2 linked regions of the Homo sapiens genome follow. The protein of the gene in region 2 interacts with the protein of the main gene of each other region in a pairwise test. Each region holds a gene or a part of one and is shown on either strand. Other genes may lie near its edges.

Region 1 (3,500 bases), on a different chromosome or scaffold from region 2:
ATAAATCAATCTCACAGCTTGTGAAACTTTCTTACACAAGTAAGAAATCCTTGTTGTTTTTTCAGTAAATTTTTCATTGAGGTTTAATGTACCTACAGAGAAGTGCACAGGTCGTAAGCGCAGGTTGATGAATCTTTACAAAGTAAACATACCTATATAACCAGCACACAGTCAGGATTATCTGCACCCTGTAAGTTCCCCGTGACCCCCTTCAAGTAACTAAAACCTGAAGGGTAAGCCTACCCTGATTTGTAACACTAGACATTTTTCCTGTGTTGATTTTTTTTGCTTGTTGATTTCCGTCACTTCTCTGGTCTTCTAAAGTTCTAAGAAAGAATGGAAAAATCTGTCAACTACTTAAGTTTATTTAGTTAAAAAAAATGTAACCACTAAAGCCACTTTATAGAAAATAGAGAAAAGGAAACAGCACTTGTGATCCCACCACTCTATCAAAGCTTCTCTCCATTTCCCTGTAGTCCTTTTCACATGCGTTAATAAATATTGGACATATTACCTCATTGGTTTTAAAAATAATTGTATAGTGCTATCATTATGTAATATATGTAATATAGCGTAATCAAAGGAATCACACTGTTATTTTACTTTTTTCACTTTGTCATAAGCATTTTCCATATTGCTGTCTTATTTATAGTAATATTTAGAGATTAGTAATTTCTGAGTGTATTGTGTGTTTTTGAAATTCTATTGTTGGATATTTTGATTGCTTTTTTTGGTATTACAAATTAGTGGATTTTAGCTAGAAATTGGGAGGTGTGTCTTTTTGATTGTCAACAATGATTAGAGGGCCTGTTGGCATTTAGTGGGTAAATGTTAGCAACTTATAAGTAGTCTTAAACAGGATGAATTGTGCTAATCCATAGGGCCACTGAAGCCCAGTGAAGAAACCCTGTTATAAATAATGCACCAACTAATATTTTTGTACATGATACTGTATGCTTCGCTCATGTTTTGGCATATCTTTTTTGGTAGGTCCTCTGTCCTCTAAAGGATGTGTATTAATGTACTGATAAAATACTGGACATATTATTACCTCATTGGTTTTAAAAATATTGTATAGTGCTATCATTATGTTTAATAAAAGACAAAATAACCAGTTAGGGCCAAGAAATTTAATTGATGCCCAAAAAGTTGGTTCTTTGGTTTCTGCGTGTACTACCCACTGAAAAGTTTTAATTTTTTTTGAAAAATTGATAAGATTTTGTATTTTAAAAAACCAAAACTTTAAGTCAACGAATGAGGTCAAACTAAAATCTGCTAAATTTGGGTACTGCTATTTTCTTCTTAAAATTTATTTCTAAAATTTTATTTATTTATTTAGTTAAGTAGAGACAGGATTTCACCATGTTGCGCAGGCTGGACTCAAACTCCTGGGCTTAAGCAGTCCGCCTGCTTTGGCATCCTAAAGTGCTGGGGTGACAGATGTGAGCCACTGTGCCTGGCCTGCTAGTTTCTATAGATGCATACATTTAGACCAAATGGAATATGTCATCCCTTTTTATGTGTTTTTTTTTCCCCCAAGGTCTTCTTCTGTTGCCCAGGCTGGTCTTGAACTCTTGGGCACAAGCAAGTACACATTTGTTTGATGAGCTATCTGTTTGTTGGCTTGCTACTCTAATAATTTTAGTTTATAATGGTCAAAATAAAATAGTGTTACCTTGCCTGAAATTTTCAAATATTTGCATTTTTATAAAGTAAATGTAAGTTGGTCTTTATTTTAAGGAAGGTAATTGGAAATGAAGATTAAGAAAATTGGCCGGGTGCAGTGGCCCACGCCTGTAATCCCAGCGCTTTGGGAAGCCGAGGCAGGCGGATCACGAGGTCAGGAGTTCGAGACCTGTCTGGCCAACATAGTGAAATCTTGTTTCTACTAAAAATACAAAAAATTAGCTGGGTGTGGTGGTGTGCACCTGTTATCCCAGCTACTTGGGAGGCGGCAGGAGAATCGCATGAACCCGGGAGGCGGAGGTTGCAGTGAGCCGGGATCCCGCCATTGCACTCCAGCTCGGGTGACAGTGTGAAACTCTGTCTCAAAAAAAAAAGGAAAAGAAAAGAAAAGAAAATTGCTTAAATCAGTGGAGTAGCCGTACCTAATATCCATACTTCCATGATGATGCTGTTCAGAACAGACCAACATTTTTTTAACCAGTTCCCAGGCTTCTGAAATGTTGGTGGCATGTCTTCAGATGTAGTTGCATTACAAACCAGACTCAGAATTCCTATTCCTGTGGATGTTTTAAGTTTGAAATGAAGTAGATTTCAACTAGGGGTATTTGGAAATGTGGTTTTAGTTTTCAGTAGTGCTTACTTAACATTTACATTCCTTCACAAAAGGATCCGTCAGTTTAGGAAATGTTGCTTCAGAGATGACTGTCAGGCTCTTGAAGATTTCAGAGGCAAAAGAGTTATTCCTGTTGGAATTGCTAGGGCTTTAGTAGGTTATTATAATCACAGATTGTTTTTGGTTAAAAAGGACAGAAACAGTGTTACCCAAGGTACATCGAGAAGAGACATTATTATTAAAAAGAAAGATTTCACTGCGTTGAAAAATAAAGATTGTAGTACAGCCAGGCCTCATGGGAACTAGTACTGGGAACCAGAAGGGTATCAGCAATCAAGATGACTATCTGCTTCTTTCTCTGCAGTGGTTATTATCAGTTCAGTTTGTTTCTATCTACTCCATTTCTTTGCATACCTATTATGTACTCATCATCTGGCTTACAGCTTGCTGTAAGTCACCTTCCAGCCCAATAGAGAGAACCTGATTGATTGATCTAGCTCATTTGGTCGAGCCTGACTTCCAAAATTAGAGGTTGCTGGTCAGCCAGGGAAATGGGCCCTTGAGACTGGTGACTAATCATTTATGGCTAGAGAAGCTTATAGGATCTTTTGAGGGTTTCACATGAGGAAACCGTGCTAAGGCCTGTGCCAAAGCAATATAGAATGTCTTGGTAGCACATGTAGGAGGCTGTACCTAATGATTGCGGTATCTTAAGATGGTTTACCAGAAGACTTGGAAATTTGAGCCTTGAAGAAGAGTGGAATTAGCATTCAAAATGGGAGTTAGCGAGGACATCGTAACCAAATGGAACAGCATATATGAAGACCCATATGTTTGTGATGTGTTGCTGGAACCACAGGTATCATTTTTGGGTGCATTTCCATGACGAGGCAAGAACAGAATAGTACCTTTAAGGAAATTTGATATGTGGAGTGACACAATGAAATTTAGTGTTTAGAAAGATCACTGTGGGAGCTTTGGTGGAAGACCATTAATAAGGATTTGAGGTTGGGTGCTGTGTGATTTCTTAAAAGCTGTTAAGTAATCCACATGAGAAATGATGAGGGTCTGAATTAAGGCATTGGTAATGAGAATGATGAAAAAACTAATGTGACAAATATTTACAAGGTACTCTAAGCAGGATATATTGACCAATTGGATGAGGACAGAAAGGTCAAGGATAATTTATCAGTTAGAATAA
Region 2 (3,500 bases):
GCCTGTGTGGGGCCTGGTTGGTCCCAGAGCAGGCAGTACCCCTACTCCGCTTTCGCAGTCCTGACCCTGCTGTAGGTCTCTCCAGGGTGCATATTACTGCCTGATGCTCTATCAGGAATTTATTTAGATACTGCTACTGCCCACTACACAGAGAGCAGGCCTGGACCCCGTCAGCTGAGCAGTGGGGTGCAGCACAATGGTGCCGCAGGAGGAACTCCGTATCTGTGGGATGAAACGAATGCATCCCCAGACCCTGCCCTCAAGGATCTAGGAGCTTGGAGTTCTGTTTGGTGGAGGAAAAAAAACATGTGAAGAGGTTCTACGCACAGCAATGTGATCGTGCTCTGATGGGGGAATACGGAGGCCAGGGCAGCCCACCTGAGGCACTTAAGTGAGGGTTGGGATGGGGACGGTGGTGGTCAGAAGTTTCCCAAAATAAGAAACACTTATGCTAAACCTGGAAGGACAAGTGGAGGATAGCCTGACAAACAGTAATGGGGAGGGGAGAAGGCAAGAAGCCTCCCAGACAAAAGGAGCAGCACCTACAAAGGCCAGAGCTAATGAAGCCGCAGAGCACCCTGGGAGCTGCGAGGAGCTGGATTGGCTGGAGGGTGCAAAGGGAAGCAGGAGCTGGAGTGGAGCACTGGGCAGGGCCTTAGGTAGGGGCGGGACTGAAGGAGTCCTCCAGGCAGAGATCCCGGGTGGGAAGTCCCCAGGGCCAGGGCTCTCCTCACAGAGCACCCCAGCAATCCCACCTGAGGCTCACACCAGGTAGGAGGAGGCATGGCCCTCCTGGGTCAGGCAGGAGATGGCTCAACTTACCACAACCACTCTCTTTTTGATCACTGGGAGACACCAAAAATGCTGATAGAGGAGCTGGTCTGAGTCCACCCAGGCCAAATTCTTGACACCCTCGTTACAGTCCAGGTCTGTGGTATTCAGTTGAAACACTAGGAAATGGAAGACACGTCCATCCGTGCCCACGCTCTGCACCACCACGGGCTGCTCCAAGACCTTGGCATCATTCTGAGAGGAAAAGGGGACAAGGAAAACAAATCAGAAGCTGTGGAGTGTAAGGAACAGCACGGCCCAGGCAGCTTCTAGTTCTTCCCTTTACAACGTCCACCTACGTCCACTGAATGGCTTCTCTTTGGGACAATTAAAATAGAATGAGGAGTTCAGGGCACTGTCCAGGGCCGGGCCTTCCTTCACCCAGGCTGGCTGTGCCTCATGGCCCCAGGGTGCCTGCTCTTCTATTTGAGCACATCAAAGTAATAGTTCCTGCCACTGAGAGGCGATTTCCAGGCAAGCCAGAGTTCAGGCAGGCCAGCTGGGGGGTTAATGACAGAAATCCCTCAAACTCCTGGCGTTACTTGATAAGGACCACAGTGACATCAGCTATCAAATGTGAATCCGGAGGGTCAACGGATAGATATAATCTCATTCAGTTCTCACCCCATTTGACAGATGAGGAAACTGAGACTCAGTGAGGTAAAGTGACTTGCCGGAAGTCACGAAGATGGGTGGTGTAGAACCCAAACAGGCTCATGCCAGACCACACCCTTCCCCCACGCCCCTGCCTTGCTTCTAAGGGCCTGGCAGTCACATTCACTGGGCTTCATGCTGACGCTGCAACTCAGCACGGGCCATGTTTCTGGAGTATCCACTCCAGCCATGCCAGCGCCAGGATTTCACCAGTCAACTCCTGCTACTGATCTCTTCTAGTTACTGCCACTTGGTAATAGTAGTAACACCTAAAATCATTTACTGAAGGCCTCTCAGGTGCCAGGCATCTTGCCAGTTTTACATCAGGTCACCTCTACTCTCATAAATCTAGAGGTATATTCCCACTAACAGATAAGGAAACTGAGGTTCAGAGAGGTGGTATAATTTGCTCCAGGTCACCCATGGGGATCAGACTCCATGCTATTAAGTCACTGAAAGCCCTGTTGTTCTGGTTTAATCCTGGTGTCCCAGTGTATCTAATAGCGGCACCTCATTATTCTCAATGGTGTCCCAGTTTGGGAGATAAATCATATGGTGACCTGCTGAGACTTTGCAGCAATCCAGTTTGGTGACTGCTACTCACTGAACAAAGATCCAACAGGCAGGCCCCATGAAGCAGGCCATCCTTGATTCAAAAATGCTGCCTGTGTTCACCCCACTGGGGCTGAATCTGGCATTAGGAATACCTAATGTCAGACCTCAGTGTGGGCCACACTGGGGCTGTTGGCCTTAGAAATACCTGTTCTTAGCTGCATGAAAAATAAATAAAAAGAAAAGTACCTGTAAGTGTTAGCCGAGAATTCTGTATTGACTCTTATCTCCCTCTACAGATCAATAAAACTGCAGGTAGTACATAAATTTCTCAGCAATTTTACCTTTTACATGGAGGCTCTTCCCATAATTGCTCAACTTCACATCCCCAGGAATAATTTGTGCCTGGAGGGGCTGAAGGAGGCCTCCACTCCTACCCAACTGGGTGGTAATTAGTTGTATCGTTGCTACCCAGACTCTGATGGCAATAGCTGGCACAGAGGCTACAGCGAGTCTGCAGGCCTGGGACCAGGGTTGTGACTATCTCTGCCTCCTTCTCCTGCCTGAGTTGGGAGTAGCACATCCTTCAAAACTGGAGAGATCATGTTCCAAGCTTTGCTTCCCCACTCATTAGCTGTGGGATCTTGGACAAGTTACCTAATCTTTCGGAGCCTTCAGGAAGTATATAGTCAGAGAATGGGAATAAAGACAATTGTCCTAGGATTGGAAAGACACAAGGTCACATAAAGATCTGACAGCTACTAATTTCTTAGCTGTGTATCCTTGGGCAAGTTCCTTAGCCTCCCTGAGCCTCAGTTTCACCATCTATAAAATGAAGCTAATAGCATCTGCCACATGGGGTTAAAAAACTACAAGGATTAAATAATGCCATGTTCTGAAATTTCAGTTCAGTGGTTGCCTTTTCTTTTTTCTTTTTTTTCCTTTGAGGCACAGTCTCACTCTGTCACCCAGGCTGGAGTGTAGTGGTGCAATCTTTCAGCTCACTGCAGCCTCCGCCTCCTGGGTTAAAGCAACATTCATGCCTCAGCCTCCCGAGTAGCTGGGATTACACGTGCATGCCACCACACCCAGCTAATCTTTGTATTTTTAGTAGAGATGGGGTTTCGCCATGTTGGCCAGGCTGGTCTCGAACTCCTGGCCTCAAGTAATCCTCCCACCTTGGCCTCCCAAAGTGCTGGGATTACAGGTATGCACCATCACACCCAGCTAATCTTTGTGTTTTTAGTAGAGATGGGGTTTTGCCATGTTGGCCAGGCTGGTCTCGAACTCCTGGCCTCAAGTGATCCTCCTACCTCGGCTTCCCAAAGTGCTGGGATTACAGGCGTGAGCCACCGCACCCGGCCAGTTCAGTGGTTTTTAAACTCGAGCTTGTAGCAGCATAACTGGGGGGCTTGTTAAAACGCTGATCGCTGGGCCCCAACCCCAGGGTTTCTGATTCAGCA

What was found. Proteins that work in one complex are often made in the same cells at the same time.
Region 1: the proteins of MRPL37 (region 2) and SREK1 interact in a two-hybrid assay, tested with the Homo sapiens proteins (one large-scale study listed by BioGRID).

The regions. Positions count from the first base shown.
Region 1 is NC_000005.10:66,147,300-66,150,799, forward strand, and holds part of SREK1 (splicing regulatory glutamine/lysine-rich protein 1), read left to right. Parts: intron 1-3,500. UniProt on the Homo sapiens protein: Participates in the regulation of alternative splicing by modulating the activity of other splice facors. Inhibits the splicing activity of SFRS1, SFRS2 and SFRS6. Augments the splicing activity of SFRS3.
Region 2 is NC_000001.11:54,213,667-54,217,166, reverse strand, and holds part of MRPL37 (large ribosomal subunit protein mL37), read right to left. Parts: intron 1,027-3,500; coding exon 823-1,026; intron 1-822.